Regions from separate parts of the Homo sapiens genome. Here region 1 is linked to region 2. Evidence: fine-mapped QTL for protein levels in blood plasma. A gene starts in region 2. The other region holds a variant in brackets. All regions are shown on one strand. Distances are from middle to middle. Region 1 has its middle 40 kb from the start of TAPT1-AS1. Region 2 holds the start of FGFBP1 (fibroblast growth factor binding protein 1).

Evidence for each region. PIP is the chance, under the fine-mapping model, that this variant and not a neighbour inherited with it causes the effect. The UK Biobank Pharma Proteomics Project read protein levels with antibody pairs (Olink). The fine-mapping took linkage between variants from a reference panel, not from the people measured, so its PIPs are less certain.
Region 1: its variant is fine-mapped to the plasma level of the FGFBP1 protein (UK Biobank, PIP above 0.99).

The regions. Positions count from the first base shown.
Region 1 is chr4:16,262,241-16,270,584 of GRCh38, forward strand. No RefSeq gene overlaps it. Among named protein-coding and RNA genes, the nearest start is that of TAPT1-AS1, 40 kb to the left of the region's middle. The variant A/G (reference allele first, on the strand shown) is at 4,565.
Region 2 is chr4:15,934,637-15,942,980 of GRCh38, forward strand. It overlaps FGFBP1 (fibroblast growth factor binding protein 1), which reads right to left and starts at 4,104. Exons shown (of 3, transcript NM_005130.5): 1 at 4,051-4,104; 2 at 3,615-3,835; 3 at 941-2,016. The coding sequence starts at 1,996. The coding sequence ends at 1,292.

The sequences.
Region 1 (8,344 bases), 330 kb after region 2:
AGCAGATGTACAAAAATGCAGAAAAATAAAGTGTGAAGTGTTTGTAGGTGGAGAGATAGAATTCTTTGCTATTTGTATTGAATCCTTAATATATTCTAGTGCAGAAAGCATGAAGCATGGCTACCGGAAGCACACGTGTCACACATCAAAGGGAAGCTGCAGAAAACAGCAGCGTTGGTGCAATTACTCTTTCTTATATTTCCCCTCCCCACACTGCTGGGCCCACTAATTTGATTATCTTTATTGTGGGATAATTTGTATACTTCCCCCCCTTCTTTTAGATGCACAGTTCGATAAGTTTCAAAATATATATATATATATTCACTTATGTAATTGCCAGCCCAATCAAGACATAAGTTTGATTCCATCACCCTAAAAAGTTACCTCATGCCCCTTTGCATTCAAAGTCCCCCATCTCCAATCTCAAGAAACCATAGATCTGCTTGCTCTTAATCTCTTAATATAGACTAGTTGTGCTTGTTCGAATGCAGAAAGCCACAATAGGGTTTTCTTTTTTTTTTTTTTTTTTTTTTTTTTTGAGACAGAGTCTCTCTCTGTCATCCAGGCTGGAGAGTGCAATGGTGCGATCTCAGCTCACTGCCACCTCTGCCTTCCGAGTTCAAGCGATTCCCCTGCCTCAGCCTCCTGAGTAATTGGGATTACAGGCGCCTGCCACCACGTCATGATGATTTTTGTATTTTCAGTAGAGATGGGTTTTCGCTATGTTGCCAGGCTGGTCTCGAACTCCTGACCTCAAGTGATCCACCCGCCTCAGCCTCCCAGAGTGCTGGGATTACAGGTGTGAGCTGCTGCGCCCAGGCGCCATATTAGTTTTGACTGTTTATATGAATAGTATCAGATAGTATACACTCTTTTGTGTCCGGACTCTTCAACAAAGCATTTTTGAGATTCATTCATGTTGTTATCAGTAATTTGTTCCTTTTTATTTCTGAGTGGTAGTCTATTTATAAATATACCACAATCTGTTTATCCAATCAAACCACACATTTGGGTTGTTTCCAATGGTTGGCTGTTATGAACAAAGCTACTATGGAGATTCATGTGCATATACATATGCTTTGATTTCTTCTGGGTATATACTGAATAGTGAGATGGTAAATATACATTTAACTTTATAAGAAATTGTCAGATGGTTTTTCACCAGCAATGTTGCTTCTTACCTTCATTAATACTAGATATTGCCAGTCTATTAAATTTTATCCATTCTAAACTATAAGTGCAGTTATATTTTATTTTGGTTTAAATTTGCATTGGTCTAAAGACTAAAGATGTTGCCTATCTTTTCATGAGTTTATTAGCCAATAAAGCATCCAAGTCTTTTGTCCATTTTTTACTGGATGTTTGTTTGTCTTCTTGTTATTGAGTTGGAAGAATTCTTTATATATTCTGAATACAAGTGTTTTCTCATATATATGGATTGTGAACATTTTCTCACAATCTGTGGCTTGTCTTTGCATTTTCTTAATAGTGCCTTTTAGAAAGGACAAGTTTTGATAAGGTCAAATCTATCAATTTTTCTTTTATGGTGTGTCCTTTCTATTCTATCTAAGAAATCTTTGCCTGTCCCCAAAGTTGTGAGGATTTTCTTTTGTGCTTTTTAATGTAAATTGTTTTCCGCCTTGTAGAAGCTTTGTAGTTATGGCTTTTTCACTTAGGTCTTACCCATTTTAAATGAATTTTAATGTGTGGTGTGAATTAAAAATTGAGTTTTTTTTTTTGCGTATGGATAGTTCGTTTTTTGCATATGGATAGTTAGTTTTTCAACACCATTTACTAAAAAGACTACTGTATTTCCATTTGTTTATTTTGGCATTTTCAGCAAAAATTAATGGGCCGTATATGTTTGCATATTTCTAAACTCTTCATTGTCTTGTCTTCCACTGATGTGTATGTCTCTCTTTGTATCTCTGTCATACTGTCTTAGTTACTGCAGCTTTCAAATAAGTTTCGAAATGAGGTAGTTTAAGTTCTTAAACTTTATTCTTTTTTTGTTTCAGAATAGTTTTGGCAATTCTATGTCATTTGGATTTGCAAATTATTGAATTAACTTGTCAATCTTTACCAAAAATACTTGCTGGAAATTTGATTGGGTAGAATTGACATCTTAATAATATTGAGTCTTCCAATCTATGAAAGTGACTCTCTATCAACTTAGCTCTTCCTTAATTTATCTCAGTTTTCTGTAAAAAAGTTCAAATTTGAATATGGACAATTCTGCATACACACACGCGCACACACACACACACACACACACACACACAGAGTTCAGGCCAGGCAAAACATGTTCATGCCCTGAATTTGTAGAATGCTACCTATGGCCTTAAATATTTCAGTTGCATTGGTATGTTTTTTTCTGCGTCAAAAATTTTGGCATTCTTTTCTAGATCACTAATTGCCAAATAAAATCCTGACCTTGAGAAAGACTTAATTGTAACTAATTGTTGGTATCTTTTAAAACTTCTTTTGGCTTAGAGGTGAGTTTTCATTTCCTTTATCTAAATATTAATGAAGAAAAGATGTCAAAGAGAATCCTAACCCCTCTAGCCATTAGTTCCATAATTTTTACTTAAAATAGAATGTGTGAATGTGTGGAGAAAAAAAGTCCTCTAAAGGACTTTAGAGTTATGCTGAAAAAGGACTAGAACTCTTTCTATTATTTTAGAATCTTTGTGAGGCTGACATTTGCTATTAAAGTAGCTTGTTACAGTTTCGTTATTTATAACCTTATAATGTCATTATTTGTTATTACATGCTGCCACCTAGTGAAATTCATAGGCTTGACGATAAAGAAGCAGGAGAGCTGTGCCTGGGATCTCAGATTTGTGCTTTTTGTTTCTGAATTTTGATAAGTATCGGGATTTTCCCAAATTATGTAGCACTTTAGGGTGAAAACACTGGTATAGGTAAGATTTCCTAGGAAAAGCTCTCTATAATATCTATATGTTTAGTCTTTTTTCCTTAGGAGAAAGTTACTTTGTTAGATTTTTGGAGGACCAAGATAAAATTCAAAGGGATATTATGTATTAAACATGTTTTAGCCGTACTTACACCTGCTTTGTTTTGAAAATTGTCATTTTCCCCAGATATGTGAAAGTTTAGGAAAAAGGGGAATTTTCTGGAAAAAAAAAGTCATCATTAGTTTGATTTTTTTTAAAGAAAGTTGCTCCTGCTCTACCAGGCTGCAATCTAATAAATATTTCCTATTATTCATGGCTTTTCCTGCCATTCCCCATCACCAAGCCTTCTTGTGCCTAATTCTGAGGATTTGTCTAATTTCTCAGTGAAGCACTTAGGATTTGAAATTCATAATATGTTAAAAACAAGATCACTTACTACAATTAGATAGATTCATAGCATTTCCCTTAGCTAGCCATGACCTCAAACATTAAAAACATGTACCTCCCTTACTTTATAGAAGAAACATACACCCAGACAGGCCAAGTAGATTTACCCGGTCTCCGAGCTTCTTCATGGCAGAGCTGAGCTTAGGCTGAAGTGTCTTGATAGCCATCGAATGTGCTAGATGCTGGGATGTGCTCCTTGTCCTCGGTGAGAGAGCGGGATAAGACTTACCTGGTGTGGAGAGGAGCTGCAGTATGGTAGGAGGAGCAGGATTAGCTGCTCAGAACAGGGCACTTCTGCTTAGCAGCATCTGCAGATGTCAGCAGCCCATGAAGAAGGGCTCATCAGCAAAGTCTTGGCTCCCCTGTCCCTGCCCAGCACATGCAGGGCAAGGAGAGACAAGACAGAGCTTACAGGGCATGCTTCTGCTTTCTCTCGCTGAGGGCTGGCCTAAGCAAAGGGGTCCTGAGCTTGCAGGCTGGCAGCCCAAGCCATGCTCACTGCCTCCAGGAAATGAGTTTTCTATGCAAGCCCTCCTCCCCAAAAAGTTGTGATAGCAATATTAAAAGTAGCATTATTATTGGCCTGGCGTGGTGGCTCACACCTGTAATCCTTTGGGAGGCCAAGGCGGGCAGATCACCTGAGGTCAGAGTTCAAGATGAGCCTGGCCAACATGGCCAAACCCCATTTCTACTAAAAATACAAAAAAAAAAAAAAAATTAGCCAGGGGTGGGGGCACACACCTGTAATCCCAGTTACTTGGGAGGCTGAGGCAGGAGACTTGTTTGAACTTGAGAGGTAAAGGTGGCAATGAGCAGAGATGGCACCACTGCACTCCAGCTTGGGTGACAGAGCCAGACTCCATGTCAAAAACCAAAAAAGTAGCATTATTATTAATATTAATTATCAATATTAGCTTGATACTACCTTTTTCATAGCAGCAAAAGCAATGTTAGGGATAAGAGAGTGACTATATAACAATAAAATAAAAACAGGAAGTTAAAATAGTCTGACCCCACCTGCGGCTAAGAACATCGTCTTTCAAAAAGCTGAAGTAAATACCTAAAGAATTTCATGGGTATATTCTTACTAAATATGGGAGAATTTATCATATGTTCTCAAAATTTGATAAAACAATTTGTTTAAGGATTTAGAAAATTTGAGCAATACAATAAGATGAACATAATAGAGCCCTGATCCC[A/G]TTAGTTAGAAAATACACATATTACTGAATGACACACAAAAAAATCTGAGCCACAAAAAAGTTATATTACCTAAAAATTAATATGCTGTAGGCCCTGTTGTTTGACTGAAATGCAATTTAAACTAGCAATTGATACTAAAAACAATCCCCATAGTTTTGGAATTTAAAAAATTCATAGCTATCAATTAATAATGTATATCAAGAAGAAATTATAATAAAAATTACAAAATATTAAGAAGAGAATAACAACGAAACACTACATATAAAAGATAATGGGATTTAGCTATTGCAATACTTTAGATTTATGGCTTTAATACATTTATTAGACAAAAGAAGATATAAAATTACAAAAGAAATTATTTAGTCTGAGAAGTTAGGAAAAGAATGGCAGAGTAACCTTAAAGCAAGAGAAAAAGGGAATAATGAAAATAAAAGCAGAAATTAATTAAATGGGAGGCAAAAAAATAGACCATCAGTGAACATTAAAACACTTCTTTGAAGAGGCTAACAAAACAGACAAACTTACAGCAATGATAATTGATATTAAGCATTTATTACTGGCAAATGATTATTAACATTAGGAATGAAAAAGGAATCACAACCAGAGACAGAAGATATTACAGATATTTCCAACTTTATGCCAAAAAGTTTGCAAATAGTTCAGTAAGCTTGTAGAAAAACGTAGAGAACCAGAAATGATTTAAGAAAATATGGAAAATCTGAAAAGTCCTGTTAACACTAGAGAAATTGAATTTGTCTTCAAAAACAGACACACACACACACACACACACACACACACACGCTGTCACTCACCTGGATCAGACAACTTTCAACACTAAGCCCATCAAATTGTGAAGAAAGATTCTTCACTAGCTTATGCAGACTGTTCCAGTGACTAGAGAAAGACAAAGTTCTTAAGTTCATTTTATAAGGCTGATCTCCCCTTGAAAACAAAACAAGGACAATATGAGAAATGAAAACAGATGAATCTTCCTTAAGAATATTTATTTGTAGAATTCAAAATAAAGCATTAATACATACAGTCAGCAATTTATATATGTGAACAAGATTTGGTAGTTGAGAAAGGAGAAATTATAAAAAATTGGGTGTTAATTTGAACTAGCTTAAGTTTAGCAACATTGCTGAAGAAATGGTCACTGAGACTGCCAAGATGGTGTTAGGAGCTCGGTGTCAAAATTGTGGCAGGAGACCTATACCAACCTGTTGTCACTGAAACCCACTGGGCTCTGCCTTGTAAGTGCTGCAGGTGTCTCCATGGAGCCTCATGCTGTGGGTCACTAATCCAGAAGGGCCTTGAGAATGGGCCTCCTCTATTGTTTTCCGCCCTCATTTCAGGGACTGTTTCCCTGCACAGGTAGGGAATGACCTCCCTGGAGCCTGTGTCTTCGCAGGAGAGTCCCAACTGTAGCCGTGTTTCTGAACAGCCCTGGCTTTTATTGTAACAGGGAAACAGCAAACGAACTAACATAACTAACTCCATTTTTATTTAAGGAGCATTTACCCATTCCTGCACCTAGGCTAGGATAATTTTAGAGCACTGAGATAATATGCAAAAACAGCAGTCACGGAGTTTCTGTAACTAACTCTGGAATTAGAGGGAAAGTAGGTAAACAATTAACTGTACTTTGTTAAAGATATACGGGTACACTGTGACCTGACTGACGACAAAGAAGTTCCCAACCTCCTCCAACCCTCACTGGTGCTCAGATGTCTGCAGTCATTTGTCACCTCTTGATCACAACTCCCTCTTCTTCCCCCTGCCCTTAACATGAAAAGAACCTGAAATTTGTACCAAGTTAAGATGATACTTTAGGATGTTAGTCCACCATCTTCTTGGTTTGCTGATTCTCCAAATAAACCTGCTTTTCCTCCCACCAACCCTTGTCTCTGGAGTTTAGGCTTCCCAGCGGTGAGCAGCAGAACCACTCATCTATTCCCAAGCCTCTTCTCACTCATTGAGCTGCACTTTGTGTCCATACTGGCTTCAGAGACAATCATCTGTCTCTGTCTCTGAGGCTGTAGGAACTGAAGCAGCTTTCATCTAAGAGCCTGACTGGTTTGGCTCAGAGGCCTCCTAAGGCAGCATCACTGGTGAGCCAGTATCCCTAAAAAGTAGTTACTACTGGAGGACTGTACCACTACTTGTGTTCACCATAGGACTTGGTCACTTGGACCATCTTTTGGGATCATAACAGGATCATCAATGCCTGCTTCTACTCAAACACTGTTTCTTTGATTCACACATACATTGAAATACACCTGTGCCTTGATGATATCTACCACCACTACCCCTCAACCAAGACATCTGTCAGCACTGGGGAGTCCTGAATAAAAAGCACAGCATCAGTTGGCACTGGGATGGGAGCCCATGGGCTTTTTGATTTCCTGCTCTTATTGGCAGTTGGGAGCTAAATTTTCTCACTCTCAATTATCTTCAAATCCTGAACAGTGCAGAGGGTTAAACCTTACTTAATAAGGCATTGGTTGGACCTTCAGCTACCCCATAGATTCAGTTTGCTGGGAACTGATTCAAGTTAACATGTGTCAGGGGCTATGATGAATGGACTGACTCTGGATACCTTTGGAGAGCTTAAGAAAGCACTACAGACAGGACTGGGGAGCAACCCACCCAAGCCTTGGCAAAGGACCAAGAGGCGGTGGTGGTAGTAGCAGCACTCACTGATCAAGACCTTTAGGAGAAGTGAGATGGGACATAGAGCCAAGAAAATTTTCTGGGACTGAGGTTTCCTTGGAAGCCATCTGATACCTTGTCAAGGCAGCTAAGGAGACTTAGAGTCTTTCCAGGCAAGCACTTGGAGTTGTTCCACAGGACTTGGTTTCCCCAAGCCAGTGAGGCTCACAGGGGCAAAGATTCATAGTTCCTCACCTCTGTGGTTACCTGCAGCACAAGGCTTGGGTGACCAGAAGGAAGAATGGTCACACACTGAGCCTACATATTCTAATCATTATTTTCAATGGGATTTTGTAACTAAATCCCTTTTTTGCTGGAACAAGGGCAATCAAACCTATGTATGGCAGATTCTAAATAAAATTCTAAAGGAGAAATTCTGACAAAAAAAACAACCCTTGAATAATGGCAACATCATGAGAATATTTGTAGCCCCAGGGTGACTACTTTGGATGCTATACAATTACCTGTATACGGATGTCAGGTAAGTTTATTGAATCATTATTTTAAAAATCTTATTTGCTTACTCACAGAGCCTATTTTTTCAGAAGTCTTAATAATCACATTTTACATGCTTACAAATGCTTGCTGGTGTCAGGCTCTGCTCTATGAATTCCACATGTACAGCTCATTCATTCTTGTAGCAGTCCCAGGAGGAATGGCTTCTTGCTTTCTCCATTTCACTTTTAAGCAATTTGCCCAAGGTTATACAACTATTCAGTGGAGGAAGTGAGGTTTAAACCCGCAAGGCCTGGCTCCGGAGCTTGGTTCTTAACCACTACCTCCACTGCATCTGATTATGTCATCTACTCACAGGATATTTTCCAATTTAAAATGACCGCAAGCAATCCTTAGAAACAGCCCCAATTTGCCAGATAATCATGACTGTCTTCCCTCCTATCAGGGGAAGCCATGTGGATCTGGCTTAAATTTCTTAGGAGAGGTGTATCAGTTAGGGTTCCTCTTTGGAAAGCCACAAAAATGAACTCTGGCCAAGATCTTATAAAAGGGGAATTTGTTAGAGGGATGTATGGATTAGGTAATAAGAGGGAAACTGGAGAATCAAGCTT
Region 2 (8,344 bases):
TCCTTCCCCCCCACCTGCCATTCCTCCCTGCCACCATCAGACATGCTAAAGAACAGTGCTTTCGTCAGCTTCTGCTCCTCCTTTCCCTGGTTGTGGAATTGTGACAAGGCATTGGAGACAGTTCATCCTCTCTCCCCCACTCTTAAAATACAACTTTCAGATCCTTCATACTAACATATAAATGAATAATGGCAGTCTCATCGCTGCATCCCATCCGATCCCAGACACCTGACCTCTCCCAGAATCTGAAACTTCCCATCTATTCACTTTCATTCATGTTATCAAATGCCTAAAGTGCCTCCACTTTGCCCCATTTTATTCCCACAGATACTCTTTCCAAAATCCAGCTCCACTATTCCCTCCCCTGTTACACTCAAGCCCAGATCTTACAGCAGTTTCTGCCTTCTCTCTCTGGTTTTCCTTGTAGCCCTCTCCCCCTTCCTTTATAGCCCTTATCTTGGGCCACTGTACTTAACTAGGCCTTTCTTCTCCAAGAATGAAGAATGAAGGAATGAAACTCATTTCTTCTCCAGAATTGAGCTTTGCAAGGCCGGGGTCTTTCGGGTGGGGGAGGGAATGGGCAGCTCTGACATGAATCAGTAGCGGAGGTTCCTCAACCCTGTAGACTCAGCTGTCAGAGCTCCTGGGTTCCAATCCTACCGGCCCTCTTACCATCTATGAGTCCCTGACAAATGATTTAATCACATTATATACCAGGTGTCCCACCTGAAAACAGGGATCCTAGTTATTATACTTCAATAAACACCAAACACCACTGACCAATGGATACAATTATAAAGAAGGATTCCAGAAAGAGATAACTTGCGAAGGGTGGGGAACTGGAAGTTCCTGTTTAGATTGTTTTTCCATTGATATATGGGGACTACTTAATGAGTTTATTTGGGACCAGACACAGAGAAAACCAAGCAATGTTTGAATGTATTTCTGAAAAACACCCAGAGTTTTATTACCATTAATTCAGCAGAAAGTTCGTTGCACTGAAATTATCACTCTGGCTCATTCAGCTCAAAGACTCTTCGCTGCTCAAACACATAGCTGTGTGGGCCATGGAAATACATGCTGCAGGAAACAGCCTCTGAACATCGCATCCAAGAAAAATAAGGCAAATTCCAAAACACAAAAGCAAAAAATACAAAACTTGTTTAAATATTTCGTTGCACTCACTAAGCACAAAAGTTCATATTTTGGGGGGACTGTAGAGAGCTTTAAAGTATACAGAGGGACTTACGACATGACATCTCTTAAGGGAACCCGTTCTCTTTTGACCTCATTAGCATGACGTGTCCTGCACTATGCTGAGGAAGAATGTGCAGAGAGAGCTCCAAGTCTCTCCACAGAACTCCAGGGCAGTCTTCCTCTGGTTTGCCATATCTGGGTCCTCCACACACTCGGGAGCTTTGGTGGCCATGGTCTGGGTCACTGCTAGGCTAGAGGGGGTGGTCTCTTTGCCTTTGATGTGCTCCCTGGGGGACATCTCTGTTTTCTCCTTCCTGGGCTTTGTGTTCCCAAATAGAGTGGAGCTGACTAGCTTAAGACTGGATTCTGGAAAATCCTTTCTGCACACTCTGGTTTTCACAGCTGTCTTGGAATATCTACAGATGTCTTTCTGTGAGCGCAGATTCCGGGCAACTTGTTTCCAATAGACTCTCTCATCCTTGAGCTTTAGGCATGAGGTTGGATTGCCAGCAAAGACACAGGAAAATTCATGGTCCAATTGAGTGCACTCAACCTTGAGAGAGATGCCCTCCTCCTGCTCAGTAGCAGCCCATCTGCAGTTGGCTTGGTCTTTGGTGACAAACTTGCCTTTGTTCCCGGGCCTGCTTTTCTGCTTAATCTGGGTGTTGCCCAGAGTGTCCTTTTGTTCTGAGACCACTTTGCTGTGAAGTCCATTCTTCACTTTTTTTTTCCCCTCCACCAGGAGCACCTGAGCAGCCAGTAGGAGGAAGGAGAGCAGGGTGAGGCTACAGATCTTCATGGCTGCAGCTGGGCGTTCACCTGTTTGACAAAAGGCAAGTGAGTCAGTGGCAGGCAGCAGTTCAGCTGTGCAGGACTACACGCTGGCCTCCCCCTACCCTGACAGGTGCCTACATGATTTCAGAGTAGACCAAGAACGCTTCTGGCTCCTGGAGTCACTAGACAAACAGCCTGTCTACTCACATTTCCACTTGACTTGAGTCTTGAGTGTCACAAAAGTACCACTCTTTGGAGCCTCACGAACTCTCATTTATCATTTATTCACTCATTAACTCCTGCATCTGCTCACTCCTCACTCTTTCATTCACTCATTCAACAAGCATTTACTGAGCACCTACTATATGCCCCCCACCAGACTAGGTGTTGAAGAAATCACCATGATTGAGAAAGCCTCAGATTTGAAAGAGCTTAGAGACCACTCTTTGGGAGAATTTAAATAGCATTGATCAGGGAATCTATCCCGTCATCTCTGTTTCTGATATGAAACAAGTTACTGCTCCAAACTTTCAGCTCCAAAGGGCTGGATTTCTATCTCATGACTCCATATGGACACAGATGCCCAAAATGAGAAAAGACATGACAGATGCCCAAAATGAGAAAGGATGTGGTAAGCATCATGAAAGGTGATGTTGACCCAGAGTTGAACATGCCTGGGGTTTGGGTGGGGTGGGTGGGGTTGTGGGGGTGGGGGAGCTTTTTGTGGGGAAGTAAGAGTTTAAGGAAAGGTGTGAGGTGGGGTGGTTGTCTGATTTGCCTGGGCAAAGTGAATCAGGGTGGAGAGAGGTGAATTTCAACCAGATAGTTCACACTACAAGATCGAAGACAAGGATCATGAGAAATCATTGAATCAATAGGATGAACACCAACGTCACACTGAACTGCATGAATCTGATCATGTGTACAATAAAAACCCATGCTTAACAGAAGAAGAGAAGTCAGTTTCTATATGACACCTCCTGTGTGCTAAGTACTGGTCTAGGGTTTGATTCCCACCTTGTGAAATCCACACAAGAGCTCTTCCAGGTAGCTATTAATATGTCATCCCAGGTGACAGCTCTGACTCTTAAGGCTCAGACAGGTAAGTAAATTGCTCAGGATCTCATAGTGGGCAAGTTCAAAGCTGGTATGGGTAGCCAGATCAATCTCCTTATTCCTTTCTGTCACCCCTGGTTGATCACTTTTTGCTTTTCACATTTACTCTGCCCTTTAAAAACATTGCCAAAGAATAAGAAAAACAACTATGAACAATGACAATTTAGTTTCATATAACACATAATGATAAGATGATTTGTATTATTTGTGCTCCATTTAAAACAAAACACAGAATTTTTTATAAAAAGAGGCAGACCCAGGAAATGGTCCTGATCTGATTTCTACCCTAGAAGTTGGCCATCTTCTAGGGTTAAGAAGGAGAAAGACAATCACAAAAGGGCAGAGAACAGCAATAAATGGTGAAGAGGAGACTGGATATGCCAGAAAAACACCCAGTCATTTCTCACGGCCCTGGGGCTCAGCCCCCACCTGCCCATGATGGAATGCAGGCCCAAGGAACTCCAGGCCCTTGGTGGAGTGAGAAGTGGCAGCAGGTAATAAAGCTGTTAAAGGAGCGAGGCTCTTACCTTGTTCTGAGCACACGGATCCAGTGCAATCCCAGGCAGTGCGAGTGAATTGCAGGCTGCAGCTGTGTCAGGTAGAGTGCAAGGGGGGTAGACTATTCAACAGGAGCCAGGCTGACTGGGTTTTTATAACACTCACTGGGTTTTTACAACACTGTGGCACGTTACTCACAGCTCCTCCCAGCCACGCCCCTCCGAGGGAGCCGGTTCCTGCAGGGAAAGTGCTGGATGTAATCCAGTGAAAAGGGGGGTTACCTGCATGCCATCAAACGCTTCCTCTAGGCCCTTCCCTGTCCACCCTGTGGCCAGGATAGGAGGACAACTCAGCCTCACAGTGACCCTCCTTGATGGGGAGAGGACCCCAGCAGTGATGTCTATGGAGGAGTAAAATAACTATAATGACATGATCCGAGCTGCCAAACTACTGAGCCCATTTTACCTGAGTTCTCCTTTTCCCTCATCACATCCGCTCTAGTAGGGAGTGCAATGATTCCTCCCCTTTTACAAAAGCAGGAATTGGTTCTGGAGATATGTAAGAGCTTGTCCAAGTTCACAGAGGCAGGAAAAGGAACATCTCAAAATTAAAAGTGAGATTCTCTACATCCATGGTCTGATCTCTTCCTGCCTGCCACTCTCAATAAATCTTTGTTGAATGGGTGACTGAAGTTGCCGAAGTTTTCGTAGTGTCTGAGTTCCTTTTTCCATCTGAAGTTACTACATAAGCAGAGGATACCCTAATTCTAGAGGCAGGGAAATTTACATTAAAAATTCCCTCTTTTTTATCAGGGAATTCTACCAGGCTCTGAGAGGCTGGTAAAGAGGGAATTTTTAATATAAGATTACTGTTGTAAATACTTACCTTCAGGTCTCATTCAGAGAGCTCAGGCTGCCCTGCCTGCTACAGGCACAGTCCCACACCAGAATGACCCAGGTGGAATCCTGGCCACAGCATGTGTTTAGCTGAGTGCTATGCCCAAACCACTTAGCCTCTCCCATCATCCATTTGCAGTGTGCTGACAATAACAACGTCTCCTTTATAGCTGCATACTAAATTTTTACTGGGCTAAGCTGTTAACATAAAGTGGAGCAGAATCGTTTTGCCTCATGACAGGGTCTTAAGTTGTATACTTTGAAAACAGACATTTGTTATTTACATATGCAGCATTTAAAAAGAAACTCACTTCTACAGGGAAGATGTGGCCCTCATTATATATTATCACCTCACCTTTCATAGATTTTCAGAAGAAGAAATTGTTCACTTTTCCTTAATTCAGCCATAAGAAAACTATTGTTTAGTGTGATATTAAATGGCAACTGACTTTTGGGTTTGAGATAAGGCAATAGGGAGTGATGGGGACTGTGGCAAACTAGAGAGTCTCTGCCTCCATAGAGGTCAACACTCATCTCCAATTGACTGAGAAAATGCAGGGATTAGGCTCAGTATTGTCACACTGTCTGATTTTTAAAATGACATCCCCAAATCCAGATGTGTTTATATGAAATTGGTTGGCAGCTAATTAAAATTTTCTAAAAATAAAGCTGTAGCTCAACACTATGCAGGCCAAAACTTGTAACTGTGTTTGGATTTTATGAACGATCCACCTGTTTGAGAATTCCGTGGTCATAGCTATAGATGTTGACCAATTTACTCAGAGGCTCAGTCTCTGCATGAATCTGTTGGAAGAAGCCATTTCTGAAGCTGTGTGCCTCTCTCCTAAAATTGCCTCACCCAGGGGTCCGTCCTCACTATCCTCACAAACACCCCGCTGAGGCCCTGACCTCCACGAACAGGCTCTCTCATGCGGTATTTTGGAGGATTATTTGGACATAGGCAAGGCAAAGCTGCTTTGCTCAACAAGGGGAGTCTCCTACAAAATGGAAAATTCTACTTGATCCTTGGGAGGCAGGCAGATTCTTTCTGGAGGCAGATTGCAGTTGGAACACAAAACATATTTACAAGGAAACATGTGGACTCCGGGGTCTTTCTGGGAAGTGCTTCTCTGAGCTTTGCCAGGTAACACTGCACATTCCCCACTGGCTCCTTGTGGCCCTTCCCCTTCCTGTGACTCCCATCCCAGCGTCTGCTTTGCTCTTTCCCTTCTAGACTCAGCAGCACAGCATCAGAGCAGGCTGTGGGGCAGTCACCTCCTTGGCTCATCCTGCCCTTCCAACCTCATTTCCAGGTACTCACACGCAGACACATAAATACACATACACACTGACACACATACAAAGACACACACAAACACACACTGACACACTCAAACACACACAAACACACTCAAAGACACCACACTCATAGACACACAGAGACACACACATACTGACACCTAGACACATTCACACACATACTCATAGGCACACACACACAGAATCACACACAGTGACACTGACACACACACAGAGACAGACACACACACACATGCACACACACACTGCAATCTGGCCACACTGAAACCCTGTCCCACCATTTGCAGATACTCCATGCATGCGCCCACTTCCTGCCTTTGCCTCTGCTGTTCCCTGCACTTGGGATCCCCTTCCCTTCCTTCTCTGCCTGGCACACACCGCCTCATCCTTCAAGGCCAGGCTCCAATGCGAGCCCCTCTCTGTTGGTGTCATTGGCTCCTGACGCCCTGCATGCCACCCACATCTTTAAGAATGTCCACGGGGAGAAATGGCACACTTCCTCCAATGAGCTTACAGCGTGCCAGGCACTGTGCTAAGGCTGTTTCCCAAGCTTTCTTCGTATCTCCATGAACTAAGGAAACGATGTCCTTTTCCAGTGGCTCTGGGGAGACTGCAGAGGACATGGAGCCCCAGCCACGCAGTGCATAGCAGGTTCCAGTAACTTCAGGCCCCTCCACCTCCCCATGCTCCCAGCACTGAGGGGCTCTGTAATTCTTGGGGATGAGTACATAAAGGCCCATTGCACAAGAACCCCAGGAGGAAAGTCGGCCCAGGTCCTCATGGGACAGATGTGGAGGCAAGGCTTAGGGGGACTAAGCACAGTGTCTGACACACAATTAGAGAAGAATTATCTGGAGGCCGCTGCTATCATTCTAAACACAAATGAGGCAGTGTACGCATACACTGATAAATTGTGGAATTCTCCTCTCTTTGCCCCTTCATACCTTCCCTTTAAATTTTTTTTTAAAGTTTTAGAATAATTTTAGGTTTACAGAGAATTGCAAAGATAGTTATCATTCCAATTCTCACCTGGGTTCCCTATTTACCTGTTACATTACTATGGTACGTTTGTCACAACTGACAAACATTGATACATTATTGTCAATTGAAGTCCATACTTTATTCAGACTTGCTTAGGATTTACCTGTTGTTCTAGTTTTTATTATTATTATTATTATTATTGACAGACTTTATTTTTTAGAGTAGTTTTATGCTCATAGCACAATTGAGTGGAAAGTATCAAAAGTCCCATATACCCCTCCCCACACGCAGGCACAGTCTCCCCTACCTTCAACATCATGAACCAGGGTAGTACATTTGCTGTAAGTAATAAACCTACATTAACATGTCATTATCACCCAATGTCCATCATTTCCATTAGGTTCACTCTAAGTGCTGTACATTCTTTGGGTTTTGAGAAATGTATAATGACATGCATAATATCAATTAACTAAGAAAGGTATAATGACGGTACCCACCACTATGGTATCATACAGAATAGTTTAGCTGCCCTAAAAATTCTCTGTGTTCTGCCTACTTACCACTCCATCCCCTACAACCCCAGGCAATGCTCATCCTTTTGCTGTCTCCTCAGTTTTATCTTTTTAAGAATTTCAAATAGTTGGAATCACACAATATGTAACCTTTTATATTGACTTTTTTACCTAGTAATATGCACTTAAGGTTTCTCTATGTTTTTCATAACTTGATAGCACATTTCTCTTAAGTGCTGATAAAATTCCAAAGATTGGATATATCCAAGTCCCTTTATTCATTCACCTACTACTAAAATTCCATTGATTGGATGTACCCGAGTTCATTTGTTCATTCATCTAGGACATTTTGGATGCCTCTAAATTTTGACAGTGATGAATAGAGCTGCTATAAACATGCATGTGCAGGTTTGGTGTAGAATTAAATTTTCAGCTCCTAATGTTCTTTTTCTGTCCAGGATCCCAACATGACACCAGGTTGCATTTAGTGATCGTGACTTTTTGGGTTCTTCTTGGCTATGGCTGTTTCTCAGATGTTGCTTGTTTTTGATGACTATGGCAGTTTGCAGAAGAATTGGTTAGGTGTTTTGAGAATGTCCTTAATTTGGAAATTGTCTGGCATGTTCTGGTTAGATTGGGATCATGTTATTCTTCTCATGATCACACAAAACTTAAATGATGAATACTTTCTTTGGGATTGTGAAAGGAAGTCTGAACACAATTGGTAAAAACACACTGGCTAAGGCTGGTAATTGAATGCATGTCTGGTCACCAGCTGGGGATTTGAAGTTCAAAAGCTGATTTTACTCTCATGCCTGTTACTACCACATAGCTTCTTGACCTAGAGGCCTGGCCCTACTTATGCAGTCACCAGAGATTATTCATATAATGGGTGCAATTTGGTTCTGAGGTAAGTCTTAACTGTGCCAAACTTATTGCCAGGCCAAAGTTGTCAAAAATCAACCCTTCCTTCAAACGTTACTTTACAAACAGACATTGCAAATGCTGAGCTGCTGCACTAAAGCAATATTAATTTGTTGGGCAAATAAT